2 separate regions of the Homo sapiens genome follow, and region 1 is linked to region 2. The links come from fine-mapping of genetic effects on gene expression. A gene starts in region 2. The other region holds a variant in brackets. All regions are shown on one strand. Distances are between the middles of the regions. Region 1 overlaps DCTN4 (dynactin subunit 4). Region 2 holds the start of RBM22 (RNA binding motif protein 22).

The links. PIP is the estimated chance that this variant, and not a neighbour inherited with it, causes the effect.
Region 1: its variant is fine-mapped to the expression of RBM22 in whole blood (TOPMed, PIP above 0.99).

The regions. Positions count from the first base shown.
Region 1 is chr5:150,728,188-150,739,588 of GRCh38, reverse strand. It overlaps DCTN4 (dynactin subunit 4), which reads left to right. Exons shown (of 13, transcript NM_016221.4): 5 at 6,114-6,221; 6 at 8,100-8,173; 7 at 8,433-8,545; 8 at 8,849-8,958. Among named protein-coding and RNA genes, the nearest start is that of DCTN4, 25 kb to the left of the region's middle. RefSeq lists an enhancer at 4,431-4,660. The variant T/C (reference allele first, on the strand shown) is at 6,066.
Region 2 is chr5:150,694,624-150,705,540 of GRCh38, reverse strand. It overlaps RBM22 (RNA binding motif protein 22), which reads left to right and starts at 4,479. Exons shown (of 11, transcript NM_018047.3): 1 at 4,479-4,609; 2 at 5,044-5,097; 3 at 6,270-6,299; 4 at 6,910-7,042; 5 at 8,650-8,750; 6 at 8,836-9,008; 7 at 9,835-10,035. The coding sequence starts at 4,556. RefSeq lists enhancers at 3,684-4,460, 4,461-5,237.

The DNA of each region.
Region 1 (11,401 bases), 34 kb before region 2:
AATTTTAGGATTGTTTTTACTAGTTCTGTGAAGAATGATGATGGTATTTTGGTGGGAATTGCATTGAATTTGCAGATTGCTTTGGCAGTATGGTCATTTTCACAGTATTTATTCTACCCAGCCATGAGCATGGGATATGTTTCCATTTGTTTGTGTTATCTGTGATTTCTTTCAACAGTGTTTTGTAGTTTTTCTTGTAGAGGTCTTTCACCTCCTTGGCTAGGTATATTCCTAAGCATTTTGTTTTTGTTTTTTGGGTGGGGTTTTTGCGGCTGTTGTAAACAGGGTTGAGTTCTTGATTTTATTCTCAGCTTGGTCACTGTTGGTGTATAGCAGTGCTACTGATTTCTGTACATTGATTTCATATCCTGAAACTTTACTGAATTCAAAACTTTTTTTTTTTTTTTTGAGATGAAATCTCTCTCTGTCAGCCAGACTGGAGTGCAATGGTGCAAACTCAGCTCACTGCAACTTCTGCCTCTCAAGTTCCAGCGATTCTCTTACCTCAGCCTCCTGAGTAGCTGGGATTACAGGCGCCCGCTACCACGCATATTTTTAGTGCAGATGGGGTTTTACCATGTTGGCCAGGCTGGTCTCGAGCTCCTGACCTCAAGTGATCTGTCCACCTCGGCCTCCCAAAGTGTTCGGGTTACAGGCATGAGCCACTGTGCCCAACCTTTTATTGAATTCATTGATCAGATCTAGGAGCTTTTTGGATAAGTCTCTAGGGTTTTCTAGGCATACGATCATATCATTGGCAAACAGCAACAGTTTGACTTCCTCTTTACTGATTTGGATGCCCTTTATTTCTTTCCTTGTCTGATTGCTCTGGCTAAGACTTCCAGTACTGTGTTGAATAGAAGTGGTAAAAGTGGGCATCCTTGTCTTGTTCCAGTTCTCAGCTGGAATGTTTTCAACTTTTCCCTGTTCAGTATAATGTTGGCTCTGTGTTTGTCGTAGATGGCTTTTACTTAAGGCATGTTCCTTCTATGCTGATTTTGCTGAGGGTTTTGCTCATAAAGGATGCTGGATTTTGTCAAATGCTATTTCTCTGTCTATTGAGATGATCCTGTGATTTTTGTTTTTAATTCTGTTTATGTGGTGTATTACATTTATTGACTTGGGTATTTCAAACCATCCCTGCATCCCTGGTATTAAACCCACTTGATCATGGTGTATTATCTTTATGATATGCTGTTGGATCCAGTTAACTAGTATTTCGTTAAGGATTTTTGCATCCATGTTCATCAGGGATATCTGTCTGTAGTTTTCTTGTTTTGTTGTGTCCCTTCCTGGTTTCGGTATAAGGGCGATGCTGGATTCATAGAATGATTTAGGGAGGATTCCCTCTTTATCTTTTGGAATAGTTTCAGTAGGATTCATAAAAATTATTCTTTGAATGTCTGATAGAAATCAGCTGTGAATCCATCTGGTCCTAGGCTTTTTTTTTGTGGACAGTTTTTTTTAATTACCATTTCAATCTCACTGCTTGTTACTGGTCTGTTCAGAGTTCCTATTTCTTCCTGGTTTAATCTAGGAGGGTTGTATATTTCCAGGAATTTATCCATCTCCTCTAGGTTTTCCAGTTTGTGTGCATAAAGGTGTTCATGGTAGCCCTGAATGATCTTTTCTGTTTCTGTGGTATCAGTTGTAATATCTCCCATTTCATTTCTAATTGAGCTTATTTGGATCTTCTCTCATCTTTTCTTGGTTAATCTCACATTCTATCAATTTGGTTTATCTTTTCAAAGAGCCAGCTTTTCGTTTCATTTATCTTTTTTATTGTCTCTTTTGTTTCAGTTTCATTTAGTTCTGCTCTCATCTTTGTTATTTCTTTTCTTCTGCTAGGTTTGGGTTTGGTTTGTTCTTGTTTCTCTGGTTCTTTAAGGTATGACCCTAGATTGTCTCCTGTACTCTTTTAGACTTTTTGATGTAGGTATTTAATGCTATGAACTTTCTTCTTAGCACTGCTTTTGCTGTATCCCAGAGCTTTTGATAGGTTGTGTCTCACTATTATCATGCAGATCAGAGAGTTTTTAAATTTCCATCCTGATTTCATTGTTGACCCAGTGATCATTCAGAAGGAGATTATTTAATTTCCATGCAATTTGCATCGTTTCAAGAGTTCCTTTTGGAGGTGATTTTCCATTTTATTCCACTGCTGTCTGAGCGAGTACTTCATATAATTTCAGTTTTCTTAAATGTATTGAGACGTGTTTTGTGGCCTCTCGTATGTTCTATCTTAGAGAATATTCTATGTGCTAATGAATAGAATGTATCTTCTGCAGTTGTTGGGTAGAATGATCTGTAAATATCTGTTAAGTCCATTTGTTCTAGGGTATAGTGTAAGTCCATTGTTTCTTTGTTGACCATCTATCTTGATGACCTGTCTAGTGCTGTTGGTGGAGCGTTGAAGTCCCCCACTATTTTTGTGTTGCTTTGTATCTCATTTCTTAGGCGTAGTAGTAATTGTTTTATAAATTTTGGAGCTCCAGTGTTAGGTGCATATATATTTAGGATTGTGATATTTCCTGTTGGACTAGTCCTTTTATCATTATATAATGTCCCACTTTGTCTTTTTTAACTGTTGTTGCTTTAAAGTCTGTTTTGTCTGATATAAGAATAGCTACTCCTGCTCACTTTTGGTGTCCATTTGCATGGAATATCTTTTTTTACCCCTTTACCATAAGTTTATGTGAGTCCTTAGGTGTTAGGTGAGTCTCTTGAAGACGGCAGATACTTGGTTGGTAAATTGTTATCCATTCTGTAATTCTGTATTTTTTAAGTGGAGCATTTAGGCCATTTACATTTAACATTAGTATTGAGATGTGAGGTACTATTCTATTCATTGTGCTAGTTGTTGCCTGAATACTTAGATTTTTTTTTTCATTGTGTTATTGTTTTATAGGCCCTGTGAGACTTATGCTTTAAGGAGGTTATATTTTGGTGTGTTTCAAGGTTTTGTTTCAGGATTTAGAACTCCTTTGAGCACCTCTTGTAGTGCTGGCTTGGTACTGACAAATTCTCTCAGCATTTGTGTGTCTGAAAAAGACTTTATCCTTCATTCATTTACAAAGCTTAGTTTCGCTGGATACAGAATTCTTGGTTGATAATTGTTTTGTTTAAGGAGGCTAAAGATAGGACCCCAGTCCCTTCTAGCTTGTAGGGTTTCGCCAAGAAATCTGCTGTTAACCTGATAGGTTTTCCTTTATAGGTTATCTGATGTTTTTGCCTCATAACTCTTAAGATTCTTTCCTTTGTCTTGACTTTAGATAACCTGATGACTGTGTGCCTAGGTGGTGATCTTTTTGCGATGAATTTCTCAGGTGTTCTTTGAGCTTCTTGTATTTGGATGTCTAGATCTCTAGCAAGGCCAGGGAAGTTTTCTTCTATTCTTTCCTCAAGTAAGTTTTCCAAACCTTTAGATTTCTCTTCTTCCTTGGGAACACCAATTCTTAGTTTTGGTAGCTTAATATAATCCCAGACTTCTTAGAGGCTTTATTTTTTATTATTATTGTTATTATTCTTTTTTCTTTGTATTTGTCAGATTGGGTTAATTCAAAAGCCTTGTCTAAGTGTGTCTGTCATTTCAAAAATTGTGATTGTTTATTATTTATGCTGTCTTTCTCTGGAGATTTTTTTTGTCCATAACCTGTATTTTTTTTTTTTTTTTTAATTCCCTTAAGTTGGTTTTCACCTTTCTCTGGTGCCCCTTTGAGTAGCTTTTTGAGTAGCTTAATAGTTGGCCTTCTAAATTTTTTTTCTGACAATTCAGAGTTTTCTTCTTGGTTTGGATCCATTGCTGGTGAACTAGTGTAATCTTTTTGGGGTGTTAAAGAACCTTGCTTTGTCATATTACCAGAATTGTTTTTCTGGTTCCTTCTCATTTGGGTAGACTATGTCAGAGGAAAGATCTGGGGCTTGAGGGCTACTGTTCAGATTATTTTGTCCTACGACATTGTTCCTTGATGTGGTGCTCTCCCCCTGTGGCTTCCTGAGAGCTGGACTGCAATTATTGTTATTGCTGCTCTGGGTCTAGCCACCCGGCCAGAGCTATCAGTCTCCGAGCTGGTACTGGGGAGTGTCTGCAAAGAGTCCAGTGATGCAGTCCGTCTTCAGGTCTCTCAGTTGTGGATACCAGCACCTGCTCTGGTGGAGATAGCAGGAGAGTGAAGTGGACTCTGTGAGGGTCCTTGGTTGTAGTTTGGTTTCGTATGCTAGTTTTCTTTAATGCTGGTTGTGCTAGCAGTGAATTGTCACGTGGACAGACTCAGGACCTCTGGTTAGCCAGGATGTCACAGGTGGTGGAATTAGCTGTTGTTTTCTCCTTTTGAGGGCAGGGTTGTTCTTTTATGAGTTGCTATAATGAGTTGGTTGGCCTCCAGCCAGGAGGTGGCGCTTTCAAGAAAGCATCAGCTGCAGTAGTGTGGTGGGGATACAAGCTTGCCCTAAGGTTGCCTGGATAAGTATTTGGGTTTCCCAGGTGATCAGTGGGGCCATAAAGCTCCCAAGAGTTTACAGTCTTTTGTCTTGGGCTACCAGGGCAGGTAGAGAAAGACCATCAGGTGGGGGCATATCTGAGCTCAGAATCTCCTTGGGCAGGGTTTGCTGCAGCTGCTGTGAAGGACAGTTGTGTGGTTCTCAGGCCAATGGAGTTATGTTCCCAGGGGGATTATGGCTGCCTCTGCTGTGTCATACTGGTGGCCAGGGAAGTAGGGGAAAGCCAGCAGTGACAGGCTTCACCCAGCTCCCATGCAGCCAGCAAGGCCAGTCTCACTCCCACCATGCCCCACCAACAGCATGGGGTTTGCAGGGCCAAGATTTTGGCCCAGGCTACAAGCCTACTTGCTGAAAAAGCAAGCTAGCCTTTTGGACTCCGCCCCTTCCCGACTGCTGTGGCTTATGTGCTCATATCTGTACTTCCCCTTTACGCCTTCCCCATCTTGATTGTGCCCAGGAAAATTTGCTCTCCGTCAAAGTTATTACAAAGTTCACCTGGAAGTTTCTGTCTCCAAGTGGTCCTTCCTCAGTTCCACTGGCAGCACTCCCCAAGGACCCCTGTGAGATTAAAGTCAGAAATGACTTCCCTGGGCTTCACTGGGAACCGGGAGTGCCTACAGGGCTCTTCCCGCTGTTGCTTCTTCTATTTTTATATTTCACTCGGCTCTCTAAATTTTGTTTCAGCACTAGGTAAGGTTAAATTTTTCTCCCATGATCTGGATTTTTAGGTTCTCCAGTGAGGATGTGTGTTTGAAGGTGGATTTTCCCCCTCTTACACATGGGCACTCACAGATTTTCTGCTGTCTCATGGATTTTGCAGCAGCAAGCCACTTCTTTTAAAGGGTCTGTGAATTCTTTCAGTTTTCCTAGTATGTTCCTGCAGTAGTTCTTGGAATAAAAATTCACAGTGTGAGTCTCCACATGTTGTTCTGTCTGTCTGAGGGGAAGCTGCAAGTTAGTCCTGCCTCCTATCTGCCATTTTTTTTTTGCCACCTCATCCTCTTGAGTAGCTGGGACTATAGGCATACACCACCATGCCCAGCTAATTTTTGCATTTTTTTATAGAGACAAGGTCTCACTCTGTTGTCCAGGCTGGTTTTGAACTCCTGGCCCCAAGTGATCTACCCACTTCAGCCTCCCAAAGTGCTGGAATTGTAGGCGTGAGCCACTGTGCCCATCCTGGTTTGAACTTTTTATGATTAATATGTATTGCTTTTATAATTAAAATGTATTTTAAAAATTAAAAAGTGTGATGGAGTTGGGGAATAAAATACAGTATAAAATGCTATGTTCTTAGAAATAAGTGGTCCTGTGGCCATGCAGAAAAAAAATAAGAGCAGTTGTGAGGGGAAATAAGTAATGAAGTTAGAGAGCAAAAAATTTCCAAGCCTCTTCATTGCCCATTTCTTCCCATCCTTGAACTTCAGTTTTCCATTTCACTTCGGAAAACAGATCACATAACGAAGAAAAATTATCTTAGAAGAAAAAGGGCAAACTTGCCCATCTTAATAATTTGTCTTCTCTATTCATTATGTGTCTAGTCAGTGTAGTTGATTAATTTGATA[T/C]GTTTTCTGTTAGCTTTTTTGTGTACTGAGTCTGTGATTTTCTTACAGATGAACAAATTGATTGAATATTACCAGCAGCTTGCTCAGAAAGAGAAGGTTGAGCGAGATCGCAAGAAACTGGCACGACGTAGAAACTATATGCCTCTGGCTTTTTCGGTGAGAATTTGGTACTAAAATGATTTGCAAGACCTCTAAGGCCTAAGAACAGTGATCATTTCAGAAAATGGCCATTGTCCTAGATTCCTGAATGGTGGATATCAGAGAGAGGGATTCTTCAAATTATAGACGTTTAAGTCCAATAGTTAGGCTTTTGCTATATCATTAGTTCTGTTTGAGTTATTTGTGTTTTGAGGACATTTGTGTTTCTTTCTCCATCACTCCCCTTTATCTTCTGATTATTTCCCCAGAAAGGCTGTTAATTTTGTAGGCACTGCAGAGTTCCACGTACAGCTTTTGTGTATTACAGAAAGTCTGAGAAGAAGGAGGTGGGCAAATGGTAGATTTCAGTCATATTACCCCTGTAGCCCACCTTTGACATCCTGGCAGTAGTGGTTTCTCAGCTTTAGTTATAATTTTTTTAACATCCTCCCCTGTTTCTCCAAGATGAAAAACACTGACTTTTTACATAGTGCACTTGTGTGGTTAAATAGTAATATATGCAAGTAGAATTTTTGATAAGAATTATTTATGAGAGTCATTCTCTACCAGTTTACGTACTGCTAGTAAGAAGAAAGAAATTAGGATTTGGAATTTTTGTTATTTTACCCCGAGTTTTATTTGCTCTCATAGTACAGTTTGTTTTCTGTGTGCTTGCTTGGGGCCCAGCAAATTGACATTCAATAAATAACATTTATTGAATGGCAATGATGTGTCAAGCTCTGTGCTAAATAAACACTTTACATGTATTACTTTACTTAATCCTCACAAAAATCCTGTGGAGTATCATATCCCCATTTTACGCTTGAGGAAATGGGACCTAGTTAAGCAACTTGTCATACTGCATCCACATGAAAATTAGTTAAGTCATTGAAACCCTAAGGGTTGGTAAAGTCCATATAAAAATACCTAGATTAAGCTGGGTGCAGTGGCTCACGCCTGTAATCCCAGCACTTTGGGAGGCTGAGGCGGGGGGATCACTTGAGGTCAGGATTTCAAGACCAGTCTGGCCAACATGGCGAAACCCTGTCTCTACTAAAAATACAAAAAATTAGCTGGGCATGGTGGCGCACGCCTATAATCTCAGCTACTTGGGAGGCTGAGGCATGAGAATCGCTTGAACCCAGGAGGCGGAGGTTGCAGTGAGCCAAGATAGCGCCACTGCACTCCAGCCTGGGTGACGGAGTGAGACTCTGTCTCAAAAAAAATCTAGATTAGAATTTAAAAACATTAACACTTGCAAAGCACCTACATTTGCAAAAAGAAGTGAATTTTTCTGAATAGTCCAGTGGTATAGTCAGCATATGCACCAATGTGTGTTATATTTAGAGGTAGAATTTGAATTAAATGAATTATTCTTCCAATTTTCCCATATAACCTGCCTGCTATATGCGTTTGCTTCTATCTTATGCTGCATTTTTTGTCTCTGTTGCAACCTGCTGCTATTTTGGGGCTCTACAGCAACATACTATTCATGTAGTGGTAAGTTCTCCTTTATGATTCTTGCTGACCCTGAAGAAGTTAGCAGATGACCACTGGTGTTCCAGGAAGACGTCTGTTGTGTATCTTAGACACTCCACATAGTTCTTGCCTGAGCCGTAGCTTAGATACTTTTAGATTACTAGCAGAAGCTCACATTTGGTTCATTTTTACTGTATTAATATAGTTTCAATCTCCATGTTTAGTGCTGTTATTATTTTAAGAATAGAATAATGATGTGGGGCTACAAATTGCTTTCTTTAAAAGAAGCCTTTAGATTAGCTTTTTTTTTGCTTATTTCCCTGAGCTTCTCATGCTATCCTACCCAAAATTCTTTCTTTTGATAAATAGGGTGTGTAAAAGTGGACTTTCTAATAGGAATTTCTGAACTTTGTTTAGGACAAATATGGTCTTGGAACCAGGCTTCAGCGACCACGAGCTGGTGCATCCATCAGTACCCTTGCCGGACTTTCGTAAGTTTAGACATGAAATGACTTTGAGGAGAACAGCAGGTATCAAAATGAATATCAAATAAATGAGATTAAAACACACACACACACACAGTTGTCAATGGAAAAGAAGATTCTCATACTTAGAAAAGACCTACGCTATACAGATATTCTATGACAGAGGAATACTTCAATTATTGATATCATAGACTGAGGATAATCAGGTGGATCCGTGAGAAATTACTCTTTTGTTTTGTTTTGTTTTGTTTTTTTAATTTTTCAGCCTTAAAGAAGGAGAGGATCAGAAAGAGATAAAGATTGAGCCAGCTCAGGCTGTGGATGAAGTGGAACCTCTACCTGAAGACTATTATACAAGACCAGTAAATTTAACAGAGGGTAATTTTCTGTGTTTTTCTACTTTGTTTCTAGTCTACATCTAATTCTGTTTTTGTTATTTATGTACCTAGTGATTTGAGATTTTTAATGGAATAGCTGTTAGTAGTAAAAACAATATGTAGAAAATAAAACAGCTGTAATAGAGGTAATTGTTTGAAATCTAAAATGTCAACTTTCTATATTTTCATTTTTATGAACAACACTGTTCGTAAAGGCAGTAATGCTTCGTGTAATTACTGGTACATAAAAGTCTGATTTTGAAAGTCACTGTAAACTAAGCCTGTTTTCTGCCTTTCTTTCTAGTAACAACCCTTCAGCAGCGTCTGTTACAGCCTGACTTCCAGCCAGTCTGTGCTTCACAGCTCTATCCTCGCCACAAACATCTTCTGATCAAACGGTCCCTGCGCTGCCGTGTAAGTATTCCATTCTGTAGACTGACCATTTGTACAAGAGGAAAGCAAAAATAAATGTGGCTGGTGTCTGACTAATGTCAAAACCTTTGGAATGTATTAAATACAGAAAATACTTGTAGAGAACATACTAATTGCCAGGCACTATTTTAAATGCTTTCAATATAAACAGCTCTTACAACTCTGTGAGGTAGGTACTACTGTTAAACCTGTTTTACAAATGTAGAAAATGAAGTATCTGAAGGTTAAGTACATAGGGTTAACCCCTAAAAGAATAGTGAAAGAGTGTGAACTTTTAGGCTAGTGTTCAGGCTCAGGGAGGACCAATAAAAAATAATCAATTTAAAAGAAAGCAAGAAAAATCAGCAAAATCCAGGCTCTGGTAATCTACAGAACAAATGACAGAGTTTCTTCAATAAATAAATTGTAAAAACAAAATGGAAAAGAAACCTTTTAGAGGAGTACTATCCAACAGAACTTTCTATGGTGATGGAAGTATTCTGTGTCTGTACAGTCCCGCATGATAGCCACTAGGCACATGTGGCTCTTGAGCACATGAAATGTGATAGTGCAGCTGAGGTACTGAGTCAGTCTTTAATTTCATTTAAATAACCACATGTCGCTAGTGGCTAATGTTACTTAATCATTCTCTAGATTAGAAGAGACTTAAAAGTTTACCAAACACAATGTATAGAGTTTACGTAGATTCGGATTCAAACAAAACAGAAAGAAAGGGCCCAGGGGAGGAGGGAAGAAGGGAAAGAGGAAAGAAGGAAAGAAAAATTTGTGAAATCTTTGAGAAAATTTAAACACTGGTAGCATTTTCGATGCTATTAAAAAACTATTGGGCAGGGCACAGTGACATGCACTTGTAGTCCCAGCTACTCTGGAAGCTGAGGCAGGAGAATCCCTTGAGCCTGAGGAGTTTGAGACTGTAGTGTGTGATGATGGTGCCTGTGAATAGCCACTGCACTCCAGCCTAGGCAACACAGAAAGACCCTGTCTCTTAAAAAAAAAAAAAAAGTATTTTTTCTTTTTTAGGAATAATGATAGTACTTTGTTTGTTTGTTTTTTAATGTCTTTATCTTTTGGAGATACATACAGAAATATTTATGGAGGAAATGACTTGGTCTCTGATATTTGTTGCAAAATAATGAGGGATGAGGAATGGGTAAGAGTATAAATGAAACAAGATTGGCCATTGTTGCTAATTTTTGATAACAAGATGCTGATTCTTTTTGTTTGTTTAACCTGAGAGCATAGATTCAAGTCCTGCATATATATTCCGAAGTTGATAATCGTTGAAGTTGGGTGATGGGTACCTAGAGATTTGTAATACCATTCTATATTTTTGTACACGTTAGAAAATTTCTATAATGAAAAACCTTTATAAAAAGAAAGAAAAAGAAGGGGCAAAGGAACATTGAATTGGTAGTTCAAATAGAAAGCCTGGGCTCATGCCTGTAATCACAACACTTTGAGAGGCCAAGGCAGGAAGATCACTTGAGCCCAGGAGTTTGAGATCAGCCTAGGCAACATAGTGAGACCCTGTCTCTACCAAAAAAAAAAAAAAAAAAAAAAAAAAAAAAAAGCCAGTGTGGTGGTTCACACACTTGTAGTCCCAGCAAGTCAGGAGGCTGAGGCAGGAGAATTGCTTGAGCCCAGGAAGTTGAGGCTGCTGTGAGCAGTAATCACACCACTGCACTCCAGCCTGGGTGACGAAGCAAGACCCTGTCTGTTAAAAAAAAAAAAAAGATTGTGTGTGGTAAGATAGTAGATTAAAATCCAGATGTATCAGTATTTACATTAAATACCAATGAACTAAATGCTTCCATTAAAAGACAAACATTGTCAGTCTAAATAATAAAGCAAATTGCAGTGATCCATCTATATGCTTATTACAAGAAGCACAAACATGAGAACTCAGAAAAGTTGAAAGTAGAGAGAAGTGGGAAAAATATTGGACAAACACTAATTTTTTTAAAAGAGGGATAATTTGTTTAAAAAAAAGATTCAATTTACAAAGAAGATATAACCGTCTAAAGTCATGTGCACTGAATAATAGACTCAAAATATATAAAGCGACATTTGAGAAAATTACATAAATGGACAAATCATTTTGGGAAATTTTGACATACTTCTCTCAGTAACCGAGAGAACAAATAGATGAAAATCAGTAAGAATATAGAACATTTGGACAATTTATCTAGCAAACTTGACCAAATGGGCATATATAGACTACTGTACCCAATGTCTGCAGAATATATGCATTCTTTTCAAGTACACACAGAACACTTATAAAGGTTGATTATATACTGGATTATTATAAAGTAAGTCTGAACATTTTTCAGAAGATGAAATTCTTTTTCAGTTAAAAGAAAGTTTTTATTAACAAGAAAAGATTTAAGTCACATTTATACTTTATAATAATAAATAGGCTAAGATG
Region 2 (10,917 bases):
TCTGCCTTCCTGTCTCTGGCCCTTCATTCTTCCCCAAGCCTAGCCACAGACACTGAATCCCTTTTCCTCAAGGTGGGTCATAGAGAGAACCCCTTTTCCCCAAAGCCAGCCATAAAATGTAAAATACTACTCTAGGCCGGGCGCGGTGGCTCACACCTGTAATCCCAGCACTTTGGGAGGCAGAGGCAGGTGGATCACAAAGTCAGGAGTTCGAGACCAGCCTGACCAACATGATGAAACCCTGTCTCTACTGAAAATACAAAAATTAGCCAGGCATGGTGGTGCGTGCCTGTAATCCCCGCTACTCAGGAGGCTGAGGCAGGAGAATTACTTGAACTTGGGAGGTGGAGGTTGCAGTGAGCCGAGATCGCACCATTGCACTCCAGCCTGGGCGACAGAGCAAGACTCTGTCTCAAAAAAAAAAAAAAAAAAAAAAACTACTCTAACTTCCGCCTTGCTTTTGTGTAAAAACTGGCTCTGAATAAATTATCTGAGCTACTTTGTTTTAGATTGTAGGTCATAAGACCCCCATTCCAAAGACGGTCCTGTACATACCCAGAAGGAAGGAATGCTGCCGAGAGAGGCCAAGAATCTAGACAGACAGGCCTCGCTGGGTTTCCCCACTCAGTCTATTAGCGCTAAATCAGTACGCTTTTTGTCCAATCCTATTTCTACATAGCTGTCCATACTTTGTTGAACCTAGGCATATAAATGGACAATTTCCCATCTGTGTCTTCATTCTGAAGGCTCCTATGTCAGGTAAAACTATGATCAAATAAATTTGTATGTCTTTTCTCCTATTAATCTGCCTTTTGCTAGTTAATTTTCAGTGAATCTTAAGAGGGCAAAGGGGAACTTTTCTGTTGGCCCCTACAATGTTAAAAAATCTGGTGGAAAACATGGAGCCAGGTGCCATGGCTCACACTTGTAATCCCAGCACTTTGGGAGGCCAAGGCTGGAGAATCACTTGAGCCCAGGAGTTCCGAGACCAGCTTGGGCAACATGGTGAGACCCTGTCTCTACAAAAAAGTTAAAAATTAGCTGGGCACCGTGGCCTGCTTCTATAGTCACAGCTACTTGGGAGGCTAAGGCTGGAGGATCCCTTGAACCCAAGAATTCCAGGTAACAGTGAGCTATGATCATGCCTGGGTGACAAAGTGAGACCCCCATCTCGAAAAAAAAGAAAAGGAAAATATGGATTATATATATTGTGAAAGGAAATTAAATCTTGGGACCCCAAACTCATTAAGCCAAAGGGAAAAGTCGAGCTGGGAACTGGGTCACACAAACCTGCCTCCTGCTTTTGGTTCCTAAATAAGATGGCTATAAGATGAAAAGCTACATGCCTCCCCCATATGTTGCCCAGTAATTCAGACCCTTCCATTAAACCAGCAAACCTTTTTCATTTACAATCTCATTGGACATGTTTGGTATTCCAGTGCTATGATCACTTAGCTTCAATCTTTGTACCACAGATAGGTATCGAAGATGTTATATGGCATATAGAGGCCATAACGAATTACACCCAAAGGCCCTAAATGGTAGCTGCATGAGTACCTCTTTGCTAAGCAATGAGGTCATGCTTATGAGGAAAGCTGTGTTGCAAAACTATGTGGCTTTAGATATACTCATGGCAGCACAAGGGGAACCTGTGCCACCGTAAAAACTGAATGTTGTGTGTATATTCCAGATGAATCAAAGAACATAAACTGAATTATGACCAGTATGAAAACCCAGATAAGCAACTGTCAGATCCAAAACCCTCACTAATCCATTGCTTGAGTGGTTGGTTTGGATCCTGGGGAATTTAGTGGCAGAAGCTATTGCTTATAATAGAAGGAATAATTTATGTTCTGTCCTGTTTCTGCTTACAATGTTGTTATAGTACGTGTTTGCAAATAAGTCAATATGCAACCGAAAGGGCTAAGGTAATGATTGCCCAGAGAATTGCTTTAATTGAGGAGGCAGTAATATAATAAAGCTTGACCCAGCTTCCAGGTTTGCTTTCCTTTTGTTGCTATAAATCTGGCCTAGTCCCTATATATATTTTTTCATCTCTTTTCTTTTTTCCTTTCTAGGAAAGTAAAATTCCTCACTAGGAATTTCCTTGTGGGCAAAATATGGGGGAGGCATGTAGCTTTCCATCTTGTAGCCATCTTATTTAGGAACCAAAAGCGGGAGGCAGGTTTGTGTGACCCACTTCCCAGCTTGACTTTTCCCTTTGGCTTAATGAGTCTGGGGTCCCAAGATTTAATTTCCTTTCACATTTCCCCCTTTTTTTCTTTAACATCTTTTGGAGAAAGCATTTTAAAAGGAATATGTGTTCCTGGCCTCAGTTCGCTTTTTCCTCCTTTTTTGAGCTGGTTTCTTGTCGCTAGGATGGTTTATTCCAGGAAATTCAGGTCTCACGTTACTAGGAAGGCTCATTCCTAGGAAGTCATGTTCCATGTTGCTAGGAAGGCTCATTCCTAGAAGTCATGTCCCACAAAGATTAAAAAATAAATTGGGGGAGGAAAGAGGGAAAAAGGAAGGAAAGGAGATGATTCTGAGGGCTCCAGACTTAAAGGAGAAAAGGGTCCTATCTCTTTTCTCTTAATGTTAAATGTTATTTTGTTTGTGGAATGTTCACTCTATAATATATATGTTGATTAAGTATACCATTATGCATGATTTGCAATATTGATTGACCTGTGGAGTGCCTTGAGCCTGTGTGTCCAAGACTCTGAGTGCTGAGTGAGTGGGAAGTACTAAGGAGAATTGCTTTCTTGGAAACTCCATGTAGTTCGTGGCTTTTGTGATTGAAATAGCATCAGTAAAAGTCTGGCATTGTGGAAAAACACAAATGTACGTGGACTCTGTTATTTCTGACCTTGCACTCCTCACAAGGCATGTGAAATTGGAGTCACAGATGTAGAAACCAGGCAGAAGACAGTCTGAAGAGATGATACTTGAGAATTTTCCAAATATAATAAAAGACAACAAATCACAGATCCAAGAAGCTCAGATAAACCCAAGGACTTTCTTATAAAGGAAAAGATATACTTACCATATGATCAAATAATCTCACTCTAAGGCATTTACACAAGCAAAATGAAAACCAATGTCCATACAACGATCTGTATGTGAATGTTTATAATGGTTTTATTTATATTCACTAAAATCTGGGAACAACCCAAATATCCAGCAACTGGCAAGTGAATTGTATGATATATCCATACAATGGAATTCTACTCAGTAATACAAAGGAAGAAATTATTGATACATGTAATAATATGGATGAATCTCAACTACAAAATACTAAGTGAAAAAATATCAGATCCAAAAGGATATATAGGATTCCACTTATGTGACATTCTGGAAAAGGCAAAACTAGGGACAGAACACAAATTAGTGATTGCCATGGTTTGAGTATGGGATAAGTGGACTAACTACAGAAACAAGGGAACTTTGGGGATGACAGACAATTCCATATTTGACTGTAAGTGAATGTATGTACAAAATTCAAAACTAAAAAGGATAAAACTTTATGTAAATTATACTTTAAATCAACTTTTTTTTTTAATGAGGTGATTTAAATAAATGTGTTAGGTAGCTTGATGACACGGTAAGTATGAAAGTGGTACCAGAATGGCTTGAAACTCATAAAATATTGGCAGAGTGGTTATGAGTTATTCCAAAAATCAAATAATGCATATGTTGATTCGTAAGACCCTTGTCATTTCAGAAGCTGGAAATGAAACAGTACTAATGAATTTGTGGCTTCACCACTTTTTAGCTCCACAACCAGGAGCTATATCAGGAGAGATTAGGTTAATCTCTCTAAACCTGTTTTCTTTTCTATAAAAGAGGGATCATCATACTTGCCTACAGGGTAGAGTTACCAGATAAAATACAGGACGATTGGTTAAGTGATGTGAATTTCAGGTCAACCACGAATCCTACTTTAGGACGAGTAGGTACCATATATATTTATAATTAAAAAGCGATTCGCCGTTAATCTGAAATTCAACTTTAGACGTTCTGTAATTCGTGCGTGTGTGTGTGTGCATGTGTGTGTGTGAGTGACAGAGAGAGAGAGAGAGAGAGAGAGAGAGAGAGAGAGACAGAATCAGAATCTGGCAGCCCTACAGAGAGCCCTACAGAGAGGTTATGCGAATAAATAAGACACTGGAACCGCAAGACGTTCGCCCAGAGTTTGGCATAATAAGCGCCTCAGTGGTAGCGAACGCTATTTTAACCCCAGCCTCTGATGCATTACGTCTTCCTTTATTCTTTCGCCCAATTGTTAAATGAATCAACTGTACGTGTGGCCCTTCATTCCAAGCAGGCAAAAACTCGAAGGAAGCATCCAGGTGCATTATACCAGGACCCCAATTGTTAAGCTTAGAAATTCCAAGAGCGGGCGACGTCATGACGCAAAGGCCCCGCCCCGGAAGAAGCCCTAGACGCGTAAATAAGACGCCGACCGGCGCGGCGCTAGCCTCGGGGCTTGACGGGATTGTGGCGGTCCTCTCTCCCAATTCGGAAGCTACAGCTACCTCCGGACGCTCTCAAGATGGCGACCTCTCTGGGTTCCAACACCTACAACAGGCAGAACTGGGAGGATGCGGTGAGTGTGCCTGCCGGAGGAGGATGGAAGGAGGAGGCGAAGCCGCGCACCTTGCAAGCTGGCAGGACAGGGCCTGCGGCGCGGCCGAAGGAATACCGGGGAGGAGCCAGCGCGGCGGCCTAGCTTGGCCGGAGCAGGAGGGCGGAGGGCGATCCTCCTGCGGGCTTGAAGGGAGGGGGCTTAGCCAGGGTCCCGGGACCAGCACCCTTTCCATCCCTGCCCCCTCCAGCCTATTAGAGCTGGTTTTCTTTTCTCCCGCCGCCTGCCGGAAGTGCAGACAGCGCCCCCTCCCGCGATCGGGTCGTGATGGACTTCGGGTTCCTGCCGTGCCTAGTTCCCCACCCTCGCTTCCCGCCCCCTCGCCACCCCAAGTGTCACTGAGGTGTCAGGGTCTTCGGAGGGTGGTCCTCAACCAGATTTCCCATTTTCACCAGGACTTCCCCATTCTGTGCCAGACATGTCTTGGAGAAAACCCATATATCCGAATGGTGAGTGATCGCGTGTGAAACGAGTTATTCATGTCCTGTCGATGTTGTGGTACTTGCACACTGTGAAGTGTTTCTCTTAGACAAGCAGAAAAAATGATGCTCTTTTACTAACGCGAAGTGCTGGACGACTTGCAAAGAACTGTCATGTGTATTCTCTTACGAATCCGGTAACACTCCTGTAATGTAGGGGTAATAACGATAGCTAGTATTTGTTGAGCATTTACCTAGGAAATAGGTCTGTTGACCAGAAGGTGAGAGCGTTTGTGTCTTTTCATACAATAGTAAGGAATGGAGCTGGGATTTAAGTTCACATATTCTGGCTCTAGGAATGTCAGCATGATAGGAGGAGAACCAGAACTAGAAACTAGGTTTCCTGAATCCTGGTCAAATGCCTTTTGGCCAGTGTACTTTATCTCTTTAAAGTAAGCATTCCCCCTTTGTTACAAACTAGGGTAAAATTAGAACCAGTTAACAATAATAAGGTTAGGGCTGTATTATTGTGTAGTCGTAGAGGTGTTGATATGTTAGTATGTTCACGATGTTTGAATGGTTCAAGATGTTTGAATAGTTCTGTTTAAACAGAACATTTACTATATTCCGGGCATTGGCACAGGACAAGTCTACAGTAGCTACCTTTTGACTAAACTTTGTAAAGTGGGCGGGCCACAGCTGTATCCTCTCTGATTTAGGGATTGTGGAAAGCATTAGGAATGTTAGTTCTTGGGAGTGAACTTGGGAGCCAAAAATGAACCTAAGAGTTGTGGCTGTGGAAAGACACTCACTTACCTAGCATTAGATGCATATACTCTATTTCTTTTTTCTGTAGAGACAGCATCTCGCTATGTTGCCCAGGCTAGTCTGGAACTCCTGGGCTCAAGCAATCCTTCCACCTTGGCCTCTCAAAGTGTTGGGATTACAGGCGTGAGCCACTGCCACCCAGCCCAGATCCATATACTCTTGAGATGTTATCACTTATAATATGTTGTTATAGTATGTTCCCTACCCTCTTCCCAAAAAAGGTTGGGTTTTGGGTTTTGTTGTTGCTGTTTTTCTCTCTCTAGGATGCCAGGGATTTCCAGACACATTTCTTGGGTTATGTTTAAGGAAAGAGTAGACATCTGGCTTTTTTCTTTCTGTAACTCCAGTTCTTTTCTATTTTTTTTCTATTATAGACCAAAGAAAAGTATGGGAAGGAATGCAAAGTAAGTATGTCTGTTAAAGAGTAATGATTTCTGTTTCATTTTTCTTTTCTCTACCAAATTAGCCTTCAGCTTACTAAGTTTTGAGGTCTTCCAGTAAAAATCAGTGCTATACAACTTTTTATGTATTACTGATATATTCATTGGCTGGCAACTGTTTATGTGGGAGGTAAGAAAATGAACCCTCTAATGTAGAGATTCTTACGGTGTCAGTGGATGGGCACTGGAGGAGTTTGTACACCAGGTGGTGTATGACTGTCCACTCGAGCATTTTAGCTGAGGAGGAAGGTCATTCTTGTCAGAAGCTTCTCAAAAAATTACATGACACTCCCCACTCCCCCTAAAAAAGATTAAGGTTCAGATTATTATTGGTGCTTAGCTCTAGGATGGGAAGAACTTTGACCCTTTGGCTATTTCATTTCTGTACTCTGAATTTTTGCTGGAGAAGGATGCTGAAAATTGTATTGAAACATCAAATCAACTAGATGATTGCTAAGGTCTCTTCTAAATCCTACATTCAGGGATCCTTTTTTGAATGCCCCGTTGTTATCAGATCTCCAGATTGCCCAGATCAGGACCATTGACATTCTATGGCTCTTGCTTTGTGTTCCAGATCTGTGCCAGGCCATTCACAGTGTTTCGCTGGTGCCCTGGAGTCCGCATGCGTTTCAAGAAGACTGAAGTGTGCCAAACCTGCAGTAAATTGAAGAATGTCTGTCAGACCTGCCTCTTAGACCTAGAGTATGGTATGTTTGACCTGTCCAATAAATCTGAAAGTGTGCAGGTGCCTAAAACTACAAGTCAGTCTTTTGTCTCCCACTTCGCACCCTAGCTCTGGTTCTGATTTCACTTTGGAATGTCTGCCGTGGTCTGCTTTTCCCAGGAAAAGAACCATAATTAGGCCACTCTAGAGTCCTGAACAATAGTAGGAACTTAAGGAAAAGTTGGGAATTAATCAAAAGTGGCCTAAACCTTCATCTCTGTAGCCCAAGTGAGGTAAAAGGCGTTGATCCTATGATAGATAATTTATTTGCCTTAGGCTTCTTTCTTGATCCAGAGCTTTTTTCCACCATCCCAATCAGAAGCTCACAGGGTAATTGTGCTTTATTTTATTTTATTTTTTGAGTTAGGGTCTCACTCTGACACCCAGGCTAGAGTACAGTGGTGTGATCACAGCTCACTGCAACTTCGAACTCCTGGGCTCAAGGGATCCTCTTGCCTCTGCCTCCTGGTATACCACCACACCCAGTGCACGTGTGTGTGTGTGTCACTATTTTGCCCAGGCTGGTTTTGAGCTTCTGGCCTCAAGCAGTCCTCCCACCTTGGCCTCCCAGAGCCACTATAGCCAGCCTAATTGTGCTTTAGACTTTTATTTCAATTGTGTTGTTAGAACTGATATATTGCTACTGTTTCAGAGTAACTGCTTTTGGGAGTAATTTTTTTTTTAACCATAGGTGACTGTTTTTCAGAAAGATAATTTTTCAACAAGAGTTTTTACTATTAAAGGAAAGGGAAAAATATATGAGTTTATGTATGTTAAGTTCATTAGAGTTACTCTTCTAGTCAGAGTCCTGGCCACATTTTATGTAATATTATTTATATGTTTGTTAAGGAGGCGTCTGGTCCTGGAGTACAGTGACCCTTAGATGACTGTGACTATCCAGAGGATCTGTAAGACTAACCTAGAAAGAAACCACTTTTACATTTACTTTAAATAAATCATGTTGTAATAAAAACTAGGAGCTAATTTACAGGTTGAATATGACCATGGGCACAGTTTGTTCATCTAAAAATTTTCTTTTATAATTTTTTTGTTTTTTGTTTTTGAGACAGGGTGTCACTCTGTTGCCCAGGCTGGAGTGCAGTGGCATGGTCATGGCTCACTGCAGCCTTAACCTTTCCAAGCTCAGGTGATCCACCTCAGCCTCCTGGGTAGCTAGGACTACAGGTGCATACCACCACACCCAGCTAATTTTTGTATTTTTTGTAGAAATGGGGTTTCACCACGTTGACCAGGCTGGTCTCGAACTCCTGGACTCAAGCTATCTGTCAGCTCCAGCCTTGCAAAGTGCTAGGATTACAGGCATGAGCCACCACACCCAGCCTAAAAGATTTTTTCTAAAGCATTAATTTCATCAAATTTCCTGACAGTTCAGGAATTTGGACAATTTCTTAGCATGCTGTGTAGCAGAAGTAACCTGATGGTGCTAAAGAGTTTGAATAAAAACATAGTAAAGTCTCTGGTACTAAATAGGAAAGAGGAGAAGGGAAAGATGATGTATTCTGTGTGCATGGTTAGTATGGATATGTTTTAAAATACATCTGAGGTCTTTTTCCTCTTTTTTTGTACCAGGCCTGCCCATCCAGGTTCGTGACGCAGGATTGTCTTTTAAAGATGACATGCCAAAGTCAGATGTCAACAAAGAGTACTATACACAGAATATGGAGAGAGAGGTATGCTGCCACTTTTTGGATAAAAATCCTAATGAATTGACACAGTCTGTATAATTTATCTTTTGAATTTGTCATCCCCACTTAGATTTCTAACTCTGATGGAACACGGCCAGTTGGCATGCTGGGGAAAGCCACATCTACCAGTGACATGCTGCTCAAACTGGCCCGGACCACACCCTACTACAAAAGGAATCGACCCCACATTTGCTCCTTCTGGGTGAAAGGAGAGTGTAAGAGAGGAGAGGAATGTCCATACAGGCAAGAGCGAGCCTCATTTTCAGTATTTGCTTTCAGATGATTTCTCATCTAAGAAGTGGGAGGTCCTAACTTAAACTGTTTCTGCTTTAAAATCTAAAGGTCATACAACTAATGTGGTATACCTCATGTCTTAGAACTATGAAATTTAGAAGAGCATGAATAAATTGTAGTTTTTACTTACAATTGAGCCTTGGAAACTAAATTGCTATGCCATACAATATAGATGCTGACCCTAAACATTTCTGCCTGAGAAGTAAATCTTCACTGCCATGGTTTAAATGAGTTGACTCTCAATGTATAGTTGAAGTCAAAGTAAGGTCAGACTTCTAAAGGGTGTGTATGTTTTGGTTAAGACTGCCAAGCATCTGGATTAGGAGTTCTTAATTTGGGATTGGTTAACCCCACCCCCTAAAAAATAATGTATGTGCTTTCTCTGGGGCGAGGTTCATAGCTTTAATCAGATTCTCAGTGGAATACAGCACCCCAAATGTGTTAAGAATCATTGACCTAGAGAGGGGTAATCATGTGTCCCTTTCTGGGGGGCGGGAGGGGGTGGATCATGTCAAGAGTATTTATTTATAAGGAAAGTTTGGCATCCTAGATGGCCTAATGGCTTTTAGGAGGCTAGTAATTCCTTCCGTGATACAGTAAATCTCTTGGTATTAGGTCTATTTTGGTAATTATATTTTGGTAGAAACCATAGTTTCTAGTTCAAAAGGCACTTCAGAATATGTATCTAGGACTTTAATATGTAGCTACTCTTGGAAGATAATCATTTTTTCACCTTCGTTTCACCTTTATGCCTTGTTTTTTTCTTGAATCATAGACATGAGAAGCCTACAGATCCAGATGACCCCCTTGCTGATCAGAATATTAAAGACCGTTATTACGGAATCAATGATCCTGTAGCTGACAAGCTTCTAAAGCGGGCTTCAACAATGCCTCGGCTGGACCCACCAGAGGATAAAACTATCACCACACTATATGTTGGTGGTCTAGGTGATACCATTACTGAGACAGATTTAAGGTTTGTGGGTATAAGTTAGAGAGTTATTTTTGCCTTTAACTGCCCTGGAATAATTTATTTGCAAAAACTGCAAGAATGATCATTCTGTACAAAATACATTTTTCTGTAGTCTCTCTATTGTTAGTATCATGCTGACTGGAATTTTTGTAAAATTGTCCTTTATGGTGCCACAGTAATAATGTGCTTATGTGGCTGGGCACAGTGCCTCATGCCTGTAATCTCAACACTTTGGGAGGATCTCTTGAACCGAGGAGTTTGAGACCAGCCTGAGCAACATAGTGAGACCACATCTCTACTAAGAAATCAAAAAAATTAGCCGGGTGTGGTGGCATGTGCCTGTAGTCCCAGCTGTTTGGGAGGCTGAGGCAGGAGGATTGCTTGAGCTTGGGAGATCAAGGCTGCAGTGAGCTGTGATTGCACCACTGCACTCCAGCCTAAGCAACAGAGTGAGACCCTGTCTCAGAACCAAAGCTCAAAGAGTGCTTATCCATCCTGGCATATGGTAATAATGACATAGGATTCTATTTGACCTAACAGCCAAGTTTTAAAGGATGGCACGCATCCAAGTATGATGAATTATGTAGAGGAGGGAGAGCTTTGCGATGATAAAACTCTTGTGGTTTAAATTGTTGGTTTTTAAAGAGACTGGCATTTGATAAATTTGTGTTATTTTTGGCTTGTATTATGCTTGGCTAGATGAGACTTCTGGGCAGATAGTAATGGAAATTACCTCTTCCAAAGAGATAAAGTGGAGAAGAAACTCCTGTAAGTTTATAACCTGCCCTTGGTAGCCTGTCTCCATTAAACCCTATCTAAGTGAGCTAGACAACCCCCAGGGGTTGGCAGACTTTCGCTGTAAGAGGCTGGATGGTGAATATTTTA